2 linked regions of the Homo sapiens genome follow. The gene in region 2 interacts genetically with the main gene of each other region. Each region holds a gene or a part of one and is shown on either strand. Other genes may lie near its edges.

Region 1 (7,033 bases), about 140 Mb from region 2:
CGTCCAGAAGATACATAACAAGCTGTCACCTTATTCCATAAAACTCTTTCCTGTTGTACCCAACACATAATCATGACTGCTCAGCCTAGCAAAGCAGTTTGATACGTTATAGGACAGGCTGTCAGAATAAAATTATGCACATTTTGCTATCAAACAATTCTGCTGTAAATGGTTCCTTTAAAAGAAACTTCTTGCTGCAGAAGAATTTCCCCTCCAGGAATAAAGGAAGAGTAAAATACTAATCTGCATTTCTTCAGAGGTGTGACACGGTCTACTTTATTACCATGTTATATAATAAACATATATAATGTAGAAATAAGGATTTTTATGCAGGTATGCATAGAATTATATAGAACTTTAAAAAGTTATTTTTTAAAATTTTTTCACATGGTGAATATTTTATTACAGTATATAACCATGTAGTATATAACATGTACATATTTTTATGTACAGTATATAACGTACATATTTTTATTACCTAGTATGTGTATGTAAAATCTATAGTGACTTTGTTTTGTGTATTGAAAACATCTTTGTAAGCTGCACATTTTTGTGGGAGATAAAGACTTCTTTTTTTAAATCTTAATTCAGGTGAAGGTACAAGTAAGAAGCTGGCGAAACATAGAGCTGCAGAGGCTGCCATAAACATTTTGAAAGCCAATGCAAGTATTTGGTGAGCTAAATTTCTTTGTATTCAGCAGCTCAAAAATATCATGGCTGAGGTAAGATTAAAAATTTGAACATGCTTACAAAAGCAACAAAGTGAACAGTTGTTAGCATCCTACCTCTCAAATTCTATTTCCTTATGAAAACTTATCATCCATTAAAGAAAACTTTATCCAATCAAATCCAGCAATTAGCTATTAAATGAAGGTGCTCATGAACTAGGCTTTACTGTTTTTTTTTTTTTAATGGGATACAACAGTAGAAAATCAGTGCTTCTTGCAAATATTAATATTAACATTTTGTATTTAGACTTTGATTATTTCTACATTGAAGAAAACAAAGTGTGAGATGGAGAAAGATCCACTAAAAGTACTCTTTTGGGAATTCTAATTTTGAAGAAGCAGGCAGAGGTTTTCTTTTATTATATAATGTATACCAAAAGAAGAGAATGTTAAGTGGGATATTAATTCTTGACATATCTTTCTAAAGTAAGATTTTTTTTTTTTTTTTTTTTTTTTTGAGACGGAGTCTCGCTCTGTCGCCCAGTCTGGAGTGCAGTGGCGGGATCTCGGCTCACTGCAAGCTCCGCCTCCCGGGTTCACGCCATTCTCCTGCCTCAGCCTCCCAAGTAGCTGGGACTACAGGCGCCCGCCACTACGCCCAGCTAATTTTTTGTATTTTTAGTAGAGACGGGGTTTCACCGTTTTAGCCGGGATGGTCTCGATCTCCTGACCTCGTGATCCGCCAGCCTCGGCCTCCCAAAGTGCTGGGATAGATTTTTTACTACTTTAGGTGTTTCTAGATAGAATATTGGTCCTGGAGCATCTCACATATTAAAGTAGTGTCCACTGGGTGCACTCTGGAGCTTGGCATGCTTTCAAGTTCTTCTTGTGCATACACTTACATATGCCTGAAGTACGATCTGTGTAATCAGCTTATAGTTGACAGTAGAGACCCAGGGAATTTGGGATGGGTTTTTTGTTCCCTAGTCATAGAAAGGCTTTTGGATTAGGGGTGTAGTTAGGTTCTCATGTAGTATTCCTCTCTTTTTGTAAATCATTCTAAACCGTTTGGGTAGTTTAGAACTAACCAGTGACATGGCAACCCTCTAGATAAGCAGCTGCCCAAGACAAGCCTTGCATTTCACAAGATGATGCTTGATTCTCTAGGGTCATGCATTATAATTGATCTATGCCAGGCTGGGCGGGGTGGCTCACGCCTGTAATCCCAGCACTTTGGGAGGCTGAGGTGGGTGGATCACTTGAGGCCAGGAGTTCAAGACCAGCCTGGCCAACATGGCAAAACCCTGTCTCTACTAAAAATACAAAAATTAGCCAGGCATGGTGGCAGGCGCCTGTAATCCCAGCTACTTGGGTGGCTGAGGCACAAAAATCGCTTGAACCCGGGAGGCGGAGATTGCAGTAAGCTAAGATTGTGCCCCTGCACTCCAGCCTGTGAAACCCTGCCTCAAAGAAAAACAAGGCCAGGCATGGTGGCTCACACCTGTAATCCCAGCACTTTGGGAGGCCAAGGTGGGCAGATCACTTGAGTCAGGAGTTCGAGACCAGCCTGGCCAACATGGTGAAACCTCGTCTCTACTAAAAATACAAAAAATTAGCCGAGTGTGGTGGCACGCTCCTGTAATCCCAGCTGCTTGGGAGGCTGAGACACGAGAATTCCTTGGACCCAGTAGGCAGTGGTTGCAGTGAGCTGGGATCGCGCCATTGCACTCCAGCCTGGGCGACAGAGCAAGACTCTGTCTCCAAACAAACAAAAAAAAGACATGCCAAATGACATGGCAGGTATTGGGTTCTCCCCCACTGGTGATGGCCATGCTGTTTCTGTATAGCCTGAAGGTGAACCCAACCATTAAGTACATTTGTAGAAATGAGGGGTATGGAGTGTCCTTTCTGCATCTTGGCACTTTGTCAGCAAAAAAAGCTAACAAACTTTACTATATTTGTGCTTCTTGACAGATAAAATGGGAATTACTAAGCTGTAATCAGGCCTAAAGTGGCCTGACTTAATACAGAGACTTTCTCACTTCTCCATCACAATTATTTGGGTAGCTTCGGCATGCAGCATTGTAAGTGAATACTCATATCTCATCAGCCTATGTAAAGCTTGAAATTCTCACAGTTGGAAAAAAAAAACCTTGAGGAAGTGGCAATAACTAAACCTCATTTGTCATGGAAAAATGACTCCAGTTGCCTAGGTGGTACTAACCTTGAAATGCCGCTTATTCAGTTTTAAGTACTGACCTGCTAAGTAACTAGTAATTCCAGACTCCCTAGAAGAGGTTGTTCTCTTTTTCCCTAATCATAATCCCCACTTGCTAAAACCAAATTCATCTAAGCCATCTATTTTCTGCAGGATACATGTAAATCTTAGAGGATTATCCCAGCACTGAGCAGATGATAGATCAAACAGATCTCTCTTCATAGTTCTGTGGATGAAAAAACAGTATTTACACATAATCTGTATTATTCACATTGCCAGGCTAAATTTTCTGGATCATTGTTACTCTTCTGTTTTTTGTATAGTTGTAACAGAGTATTCTTTAAATACATTTTTATGGCATGCCTATTATGTACAAAACACCACAAAGCTTATGTAGGTAAGTGATACATAGGCCCTACCTCAAGGAGCTTACTGTCTGAACAGGGGAGAGGTGTGGTGAAGGATGGACAAATTATATGTATTTGTAAGAGTATATAATTTATGGTAAAACAATTTCAAGAAAGGATTAAACCATGTGTTATAATGTTTCAAAGAAGGGAGAGATTATAAACCACTGGGGTAAAAGGATAGGCTTCTTGGAGGAAGTGACATTTGAGATATATCTTGGATGACCGATCAGATTCCCATAGAAGAGGTCTGAGAAAAGGGCATTCCATGTAGAAGGAATGACAAGAGCAAAGACATAGAGAGTTAATTAGAAAATGCTTGTCATTTATTTCATAATTCGGGGGAAATTATTTTGTTTTATAACACTTTTAAAAAATATTTAGCTTTGCAGTTCCTGACCCCTTAATGCCTGACCCTTCCAAGCAACCAAAGAACCAGCTTAATCCTATTGGTTCATTACAGGTAAGTTGTACAGTTCTTTGCCTACTGATGAAATATATAATAAGTTTGTAATGTCAGAGGGGCTAACACAAGGAATTAATATTTTAAAGACAAGATAGTGATATATTTTGTTTTCCAACTTACGATCATTAGATTAACAGAGCTAACTTGAAATTATTTTCCTATTTATGTTCTGGGTTTTCTTTCATATACAGTATTTGCCTTTGGCTTATAGAATTCTCATTTAAGATCAACAGGCCCTCAGTGCACATGGGTAAAGTGTTTTATACTTTAAGAATAGTTCTTGCTACTCTTGTGACAAATCTCTTTCTACTTCTGTTGAGACAGAAGACTTTATAGAGAGCCTAAATCAAATCAGTGAACCTAACTGAAGAAAAGGAGTCTATTTGCTTATTCTACCAAAAAAAAAAAATTTTATCTATACACACACAAACACACACACATATATTCAGCTTTGAATTTCTATATGCAGAATATCCTTCTTGCAGATTATCCATGTGCTCTGTTAGGCCATTTCCCTCCCCATTATTCAGCCAGTCCTTTGGTCTCCTTTTCCTGCACAGTGAGCTTTTCTATAGTTTTCTTCACCTTCTGTCCCCCACTTTATGCAAGTCTGTTGTTTGCTGTCCCTACTCCTCATGTGTTCTTGGCCAGCTGTGGGTTTGGAAGTCTATAGCTAGGAGGGGAGGGACTTTAGGAACTGATGGCAGTGAAACCTGTAGATGGTCTCCTCTGGTGTTGCCAAAGAGGGCGGTAGTAGCCTGTTTTTCTAGTTGATGTCTGATACCAGCTCACTGTGGTTTAATGCAAGAACACCATTCGTAGCACAAAACTGCTTCAGTTTTGGTATTGGGGTATAAAAATATAAAATGCGGGAATGTCTTTGAGAAATAGAGGGTCTTCCCTCTTTTTTCTGTTGCAGAATATCACTATTCTTTTCAAACATATACATAGAAATGGGATCAAAATTAAGAAAACACTTATGTGATTGAGCCATTGCATAAAATTACTATTAAAGCCTCATCTTGATTTTATAGGAATTGGCTATTCATCATGGCTGGAGACTTCCTGAATATACCCTTTCCCAGGAGGGAGGACCTGCTCATAAGAGAGAATATACTACAATTTGCAGGCTAGAGTCATTTATGGAAACTGGTACTTATTTCTTACAATTAAAGGCATTTGAAATATTTTCAGATGATGAATGACTATCGAAATTTCTGTCGTAATGTTTTCAAATATTTCTATGCAGAAAAATTGATACACTCCTCTTTTATTGTCTCTGACTTTCTGAGGTTGAACTTAAGTATAAATATTTGGCTTAAGATACTTAGTCTTCTTAATTTGATATTTTTAAAAATCATAGATTATTAATAGAAAGACAAACTGTTGGCTCTGTACTTTAAACAGTCTTCATTGATAAATTACTGACTTAAAAAACCTCAATTTGGAGAAAAAGCTATAGTAAATCTCTTGGATTTTAACAGCTATTCTATCTAGAAAATAGGACTAGAGGAAGATTACACTTGAAAATTATATGATTAATAAGAGACTACATGGCAAATAATTGCAGTGAGATAAAAATGAAAATTATCTTTCTTAATTATAGCAACTTCTATGTTATAAAGGATATAAACTATAAGAAACGCTGTCACTTTAAAAAGTACTAGCGAGAATTCCTGTTAACTTCTCTGGCATGTTTTTGTTATTTTCAAAAGTGGCTTAAAATGGGATTTTAGCTTAGCTAGATAATAGTTTCAAGTAATAAGAAACTATTTGCCTTTGGGAGGTAGTGTGGCCAGTACAGAAAGCACCAGGCCAAAAGCAGGAACCTCAGCTTCCGTCCTTGATGCAGTCCTTGATTCGCGAAGTTAAGCAAATTACTTAATTTCTCTGGACCTCAGTTTTTTAATCTATAAAACAAAAGCATGGAGGTAGATATTTATGGTATCTTTCAACTCCACCATCCCCTGTGCCTTTCTTATTCCTGTTAAAAGGAATTTCATATAATCGTCAGTTTAGAGAAGATCATAAGCAGGAAATAGACATTGAGAGAGAGGAGTTATAATTCAGATGTATTTTAATAAATCTAAATAATTGGTCAGAATTAAACCAAATATGGTTCAGTAATGCTAGACATAGGAAAATACAATTATTATAGAAAAACAGAAAGCATAACTATTAAAGAAAAACTTAAAACAAATGTCTTCAAAAGTGTAAGAATTAGTAACTATACAGGCCTGGCACAGTGGCTCACACTGATAATCCCAGCCCTTTGGGAGGCTGAGGTGGGCCGATCATATGAGGTAAGGAGTTTGAGACCAGCCTGGCCAACATGGCAAAACCCTGTCTGTACTAAATACAAAAAATCAGCCAGGTGTGGTGGTGGGCACCTGTAATCCCATCTACTTGGGAGGCTGAAGCAGGAGAATTGCTTGAACCCAGGAGGCGGAGGTTGCAGTGAGCCAAGATGGTGCCACTGCACTCCAGCCTGGTGACAAAGTGAGGGTCCGTCTCAAAAAAAAAAAAAAAAAGAATTAATAGCTATACAAACAAAATAGCATAACAAACAAAGTTATCAGGTCAGTAAGAACATAGTCTAGTATATAATAAAAACCGTGAGGTTCTCTGATTAAACACAGTACTTCATACGTTTGATCATCCTCTGTGGACACTAATTTCTTTTCTAAATCTACCATTTCTTTTTCTTTGTTCAGGAAAGGGGGCATCAAAAAAGCAAGCCAAAAGGAATGCTGCTGAGAAATTTCTTGCCAAATTTAGTAATATTTCTCCAGAGAACCACATTTCTTTAGTGAGTAATGTTGACAGCTATGATGTTAATGTCATTAAGCATTTCTTGCAGTAGGAAACTTTCCTTGATTTCTTATTCTATAGCTACTTCAGAGTTGTGATTTTTAGAAATCTCTTCATTATTCAGTTATACCCTACCCCATTTTTAGCTGCTTCCTGTTTGTGAGTCAGGATCACAGAGGCAATTAGGTAAGAGAGCTTGGGAGACACAGTCAAATTCAGAATAATAGGACGGGATCTAAAGATGATAGGCCAGTAGTGCCATTTTTGCCTTCAAAGTGACAGCGCATTTCCATCCCTTTGTTTGTTCATTCATTCACTTAGCAAACATTTAGTGAGCTCATACTGTGTGCTAAGTGTTGTGTTGGGTACTGGGGTGCAGTGAATAAGCAGTCCCTGCCTCTAAGGAGTTTATAGACTACTGAAAGGAAGGAATTCTATAGGCTAGTCCTTACAGAGTGTGATG
Region 2 (7,033 bases):
CAGGTTCAGGGTGCCTCCTTCTTTTCAATCTGATAATGGTCCTGAATTCATTTCTCAAATTACTCAAACACTTGCACAAGCCCTACGAATCACCTGGAAGCTACACATCCCCTATCAACCCCAGTCTTCAGGAAAGGTTGAAAAAATGAATGGCATTCTAAAAATCACCCGCACCAGGTACTCACTCCAAACACATAAAGACTGGGTTACACTTCTAGCTTTGGCCCTCCTAAAAATTCGGGCACTCTCACGTAAACCTTTAATGCTCATCCCCTTTGAACTCATGTATGGGAGTTTTGAGCATAAGTATTTGAACTCATGCTCCTTTTGTTCCACCTCAGGGTCAAGCCCCACCTCTAACAACCCCTCTCATTTCTCCTCTTCTGCATATCATCTGCCATTTCATTTGGGAATATGCTGACAAAATACAACTCCTTTAATCCCTTCCTACAGTCAGGAAACTGGGTTCTGGTAAAAGGTCCCAGCCCTACCCCCAATTCCCCCCTCACACCAAAATGGAAGGGGCCTTACCAGATCTTCCTCACTACACCCACAGCAGCAAAGCTCCAGGGACTCCCCAGCTGGTTTCATTATACTTCTCTCAAGAACACAGACTTCCCTTCACTACACATCCAAACAATCAAATCTAAACCACCTTCAGCCTCTCTTGTGTCTCCACAGGATCCACTTCCCTTCATCTCACATGAATGCCGGAGGAAAAGGAAGAGAAATTCACCTAAGCAGCTATGTCTCTTTCTCTCCCAAACTTTCATTGCTTCCTAACTAGCCTTGTTACAGACCTTCAGTGGTATCCTTATGAAACTCTCATTATACATCCTGATCAGCTCCTTACTATTCCACGGGATTTATGGCTTCAAGGAACCTTCCAGGACTTTATTCCTACCCAAACTTTTTCCTCCTTTTGTTGTTTCTTTCTATCTAAATTCCCTAATCACATCAACCTCACCGATACAACCACTCCTCACTGCTATCAAACTAGAACGTTCTATAAACCTTACACAACCCCTCTTGCTGCAAGCTAACTCTTCCTTTGCTCCAGAATGCTGGATGTGTTTATCGCTGTCTTCTTCAGCTTATACATCCCTTCCTACACCCCTTCATGACCTTTTAACAGAAAACGTAACCCTAATCTATAAACTCCAAAAAGGAGCTTCCTTTTTTGAAAGAGCTGACAGTCTGGTTGGCGATTATCCCACTTCCAAGGTCAATCAGGCCAACACATTATTTCAAACCTATTACAACTCCCTACAACGCCTTAAGCCACAAGGCCCTCCCATTGAAGGGCCCATAATTAAACACACCCCACTTTTACAACAAGCCTCACTTTGCTTTTCAGCCTCTGAGGGAAATTTCCGTGTAAGATCCTTAAACCTAACCAATGCAACCGCATTATCATTGTTAAACACCCTGCTGACCATCAAACTAACCGAGTTGACTACCAAGTATCACCTGAAACGAATGGAGCATTTCTGCAACCTGTTCGTTTTGCAGCCTCTCCCTCAACCAATGCCTCTGGCCTAATTTGTGCTGCCCCTAGCGCCCACCTTTATCCATGGCTCAACATCAATGCAATGGTGCAACATCAAATCGTATTAAATGTGTAAAAAATAACTCTTCCTATATCGCTACTATAGTGGGTGTCTCCTTGACCTCCTCCTTGACCACCTGGAGTAATGAACCATAGGAAAGAAAAAACACCCATCTTTAATTCACTTGTTTTCTTTCTGTATCTCCAACTGTATTTATGACAAAGGCTTATTTTTTGTGTGAGTGGCACCAACACATATCTTTGTCTCCCCACTAACTGGACTGGAACCTGTACCCTAGTTTATCTTTCTCCCTCCATTGGACTAATTCCTCCTAGCCAACCTTTGCCCATTCCATCCATCCAATACGTTAGGAAGAGGAGGGCCATCCACGTCATTCCTTTAATGGCTGCCTTGGATATAACCTCCAGACTTGGATTGGGAGCAGGCAGATTGGCCACTCCCTTAACATACTTTAAAGCTCTTTCCACAGAATTACAGGGTTCTTTAGAAGATATAGCCTGAAGCATTATAAGAGTCCAAGACAAACTAGACTCCTCGGCTGGAGTAGTCCTCCAAAACAGATGGGGACTAGATCTAATAATGGCTGAAAAAAGGGACCTCTGCCTCTCATTGGGTGAGGAATGTTGCTTTTATCTCAACCAATTGGGCCTAGTAAGAAACGCTGATGAAAAACTTAAAGAAAGGGCTAAAAAGCTAAGGGAGTATCAAAACAACCAACTAGATTCTTGGTTTGGGAACAAAATCATAATATGGGTCATCCCATTCCTGGGCCCCCTCTTAATGATAAGCCTAAGACTATTGTTCTTACCCTGCGTAGTTAATCTTATTCAAATATTTTTAACTGACAGGATCATGGCCATTTCACAGACAACTACCAAAAACATCCACCGACAGCATTACCCCTTCTTCTTTCTTCAGCACTTAAAATCTTACCTCTTGTCCACAGTATACTTTGTTTCTTTCATGTCAGGAAGGTCAAATCTGGGTGCCAAAGATCTAAAAATTAAGAGTTGAATGTAAAACTCAAATAAAATTGAAATCAAATATAACTTATTTAGTGTTAATGTTAACCTTTTTCTTTCTTTTTTTTTCTTCAGAGGCAAGGTCTCACCCCATCTCCCAGCCTGGAGTGCAGTGGTGTGATCATAGCTCACTACAACTTTGAAATTCTGGGCTCAGAGGAGATCCTCCCACCTCAGCCTCCCAGGTAGCTGGGATTACAGGCATGTGCCACCATACCTGGCTAATTCTTTTTATTTTTAGTAGAGACAGGGTCTCTTCATGTTACCCAGTCTGGTCTCGAACTCCTGGACCCAAGCCATCCTCCCACCTTGGCCTCCCAAAGTGCTGGGGATCACAGGCGCAAGCCACAGCACCCAGCCAACTTTTTTCTTTATAAAACTATATACTTACCGTTCTCCTCTGGCCTCTAATACTTTTTCATCCCTCCTCTGGTTCCTTTTTCCACCTTAGAGTGCTCATTGTTGATGCGTCACTAACCTCTCCTTTTCCTCCTCCAGACTCAAAACCTCAGGAAGTACATCTCCTTACACCCTCATCCTAGCTGTTATTCCTTACTGATGATAAGCCACCTGCAAATGGAAGTTTAAATACCACCTAAAACTAAACATATCCAAACTGCTGTCTTCTCTCTAAGCCCTTAACTCCTTAACTTCCTTAACACCATTAGTGCCATGGTTCTTGACTGCATCCTGTTCAAAGTGAAGCAATCTTCAAATCCTTTCTCCTTTACCTCTCCTTCATGCTTTCACTCAGCTACGGGGAACCTATTCCCTCAAGTCATGTCCACTCTTCCTTTACAGTCTTTCTCACACATTCTCCTCATCCCTCCTGACTGCCACAGTAATCGTGGCTGAGGGCACCTCATGTGCAGAACTCTCTTCTCTCCATCCAAGCATCCACATCAAGAACCATGTTTCTTCAATACATCTATCTACTGCTCAGAATATACTGGTGGCTCATAATGGCTCCTACTGCCATCTTACTGTCATTTCTGACTATATTTACATCTTTGCCTTTCTCTTCAGTTAATTGACATAGCATTTGACCTTTTTTTAATCCAAGTTTTTATGCTATTTTAACCTTACTTGTCTGCAAAATAATACACTTCTCTTGAAAACACTTCTACAGTGAAAACAGCCCAATTCCTTGCCAGTCTTGTACAAAATAATGCCCTTAACCTAATTACTCTAGCGATACCCCCAAAGTGCTTTATGTTTACAGTGTAGCATGTGCACATAGTCAAAGATTTCTCGACACATCTAAAATTATTTGTTTATAGATTTCAAGCTTTCTGCTTCTGAAACTCTGCTCAAATAAGGGTGTACAATACTCTACAAGTATTAAGAACAATAAATAAGTCTGAAATAAAACTTCAGATCAAAATATGTTCAATGCATAATGATACTCACCTTTTTGCCTTCCTTTGATTATTTCTGAGACCATTCTATAACAAAAGAAAATGAGAAATAGTTTCAGATGACTAAATCAGTCATCTTCCTTTCCCGTTTTCCTTCCTCCTGTATATCTAGATGGCTCTCTGACCAATTTCTTAGTCCATCAATGTCTGTACTCTCATCAAGCCCTGTATCAACACTTAGTATTGTAAGACTTAACTTTTTGCCAATCTAATGAGTTTAAAATAGTATCTAATTGTTTTGATTTAAATTTTCCTGATTCCTAGTAAAGCAGCTTTTAATATTTGTTGCCCATTTGGGTATCTCTTCTCTGAATATCTGTTTATACATTTTGTACACTTTTCTACTGAGCTGCTTGCCATTTTCTTATTGATTTGTAGTTCTTTATAACAGAATACTCTTGTAACACTAATCACCAAAAGCATGGATTTTGCTCTAAGTTCAACATTGCCTGCTTATGTGCACAAAAAAATTGTCTGGTTTTTGTTTGTTTGTTTGTTTTTGCGATGAGGGTCTCACTATGTTGCCTAGGCTGGTCTCAAACTCCTGGGCTAAAGCGATCCTCCTACCTTGGCCTCTCAAGTGCTGCAGGCTACAGGCATGTGCCACTGCACCAGCCTAAAAAATTATCTGATTTCAAGTTTACTTTTAAGTTTAATTCTAATTTTTAAAAACAGAAACGAACTATATTAGTGAATCTTTAAATATTATCCCATTGGTAGGAGAGAAAAGCAAAATCATAGGAATATACTAAAATATAAGGATGAGTGAGGAAAGACAGAAGTGACGTGTGGAAGGGTAAGGAATGGAACTTAATTTTAAAAAAAGTCAAAAAGCTGCCGAGCCGGGCGCGGTGGCTCATGCCTGTAATCCCAGCACTTGGGGAGGCCGAGGTGGGCAGAACACGAGGTCAGGAGTTCGAGACCAGCCTGAACAACATGGTGAAACCCCGTCTCTACTAAAAGTACAAAAATTAGCCAGGTGTGGTACACGCGCATGTAATCCCAGCTACTCAGGAGGCTGAGGCAGGAGAATCGCTTGAACCAGGAGGTGGAGGTGGTAATTAGCCAAGATCTCACCACTGCACTCCAGCCTGGGCAACAGAGGGAGACTCCATCTCAAAAAAAAAAAAAAAAAAAGTCTACTGAGGTATTATCATTTAGTAAGAGTGCATAAGATAAAAAATATAAAAATTATGGTGGAATACTGGAAGTTATTTTTAAATGAGGAAACGCACAGAAAAATAAGATTAAGTAGGAAGCTTCGAGACTAATACGATACCATAAGCAACGAAGAACTGTTTAAACTGTCACTGTTAGAATTTATCTCTGATGTATCTGCTGAGAAGTCACCTTCAGATGATGATTCAGAAGCGCTAGAAGAAAAGGGTGTAACTATTAGTTTATTAATTCTGTTTTTATCACTTATTTCTTTCCCTAAATTCTCCTTAAACATAAAAATCTGTCTTTCAGACAGAAATATGAATATGTTAAGTATCTCAATTGTTTGTCTACACTTACAGTGTGCTGGTCACTAAAGAGTTGCTTTGGGACTCACACGTAGTAGCAAAAGAACCAGAGGACAGGTAGTCAGATTTCTGAAAGAAAAAGTATCCCTTAGTAGGCTTAAATACAACTAATTATTTCTCTACAGAGGCTCAGTTTCTATGTACTATCACATTTATTTCAACACATTTACCAAATCCACAACCATAAACAATTACAAGATTAATAACATTTTTTGGATGTTTGGTCTGGATTTTATTTTATTTTTTATTTTACTTTTCTGGATCACAGGGCAGATATTTTGTTTGTTTCTTTCTTTTCAGACAGGATCTGGCTCTGTTGTCTAGGTTGAAGTGCAGTGGCACAATCTTGGCTCACTGCAACCTCCATCTCCCAGGCTCAGGCAATCCTCCCGCCTCAGCCTCCTGAGTAGCTAGGACTACAGGTACATGCCACCACACCCGTCTAATTTTTTTTTTTTTTTGTAGCGACATGGTTTTGCTGTGTTGCCCCGGCCAGGTGGTCTGAAACTCCTGAGTTCGGCCAGGTGCAGTGGCTCAAGCCTGTAAACCCCAGCACTTTAGGAGGCTGAGGTGGGTGGATCATGAGGTCAGGAGTTCAAGACCAGCCTGGCCAACATAGTGAAACCCCATCTCTACTAAAAATAAAAAATTAGCCGGGCACGGTAGCAGGCGCTTGTAGTCCCAGCTACTCAGTAGGCTGAGGCAGGAGAATTGCTTGAACATGGGAGGCGGAGGTTGCAGTGAGCCGAGATCGTGCCACTGCACTCTAGCCTGGGCAACAGAGCGAGATTCCATCTCAAAAAAAAAAAAAAAAAAACTCCTGAACTCAGGAGATCCACCTGCCTTGGCCTCCCAAAGTGCTGGGATTACAGGTGTGAGCCACCACACCCAGCCCAGCCTGGAGTTTAAAAACTACCCTGAGTTGCCACCAGAAATTTTATCCCTCTGAGGCCTCATGGCCCCATGGTGCATGGCTCATCGGTACGACACAGAATGGAGGAATCATTTTGCTAAATCACTGGCTGTCTTGGCATAATGTTAACACAGTCTAACCTCAAGTCAACTTCAGAGGGAATTTTAAAACATAAAAATTTAATCCAAAGGCAATACGTACCACTGAGGTTTCTTCTGATAATATCTGAAGATATGCAAGTTTAGCGGCCAATTGTTTTGCTTCCTGTTTAGTAGAACCTGTACCAATACTATATTCTTTCTGTCCCATTTTGCATTTATAATGAAATCTAGGAGAAATCATAGAAGGTACTTATCCAAACATGAAAAATATAGCAAATCCAACTTAGGATTCAAAAAAAATAACATATTAACAGAGATCTTAAGATAACACCAATTTATTAGATAGATTTATAGTTCATATCTTGCATAATTTAAACCCTCAGTAACATGCCTGACCAATTTCTCTGAATACCCAGGATCAGCTGACATCTGAGCTTGCATTTTCCAGGCAATTTCTAATTTTTTGTTGCTTTGCTGAAAGA

The links. Genes that interact genetically often act in the same process or in processes that back each other up.
Region 1: of EIF2AK2 (region 2) and PRKRA, changing one enhances a phenotype caused by changing the other (phenotypic enhancement), as found in Homo sapiens cells (one study listed by BioGRID).

The regions. Positions count from the first base shown.
Region 1 is NC_000002.12:178,441,145-178,448,177, reverse strand, and holds part of PRKRA (interferon-inducible double-stranded RNA-dependent protein kinase activator A), read left to right. Parts: intron 1-591; coding exon 592-673; coding exon of another isoform or gene 674-722; intron 723-2,642; exon of another isoform or gene 2,643-2,752; intron 2,753-3,677; coding exon 3,678-3,756; intron 3,757-4,793; coding exon 4,794-4,911; intron 4,912-6,473; coding exon 6,474-6,568; intron 6,569-7,033. UniProt on the Homo sapiens protein: Activates EIF2AK2/PKR in the absence of double-stranded RNA (dsRNA), leading to phosphorylation of EIF2S1/EFI2-alpha and inhibition of translation and induction of apoptosis.
Region 2 is NC_000002.12:37,132,980-37,140,012, forward strand, and holds part of EIF2AK2 (interferon-induced, double-stranded RNA-activated protein kinase), read right to left. Parts: intron 6,779-7,033; coding exon 6,652-6,778; intron 5,607-6,651; coding exon 5,530-5,606; intron 5,385-5,529; coding exon 5,291-5,384; intron 4,039-5,290; coding exon 4,004-4,038; intron 2,568-4,003; coding exon 2,505-2,567; intron 1-2,504.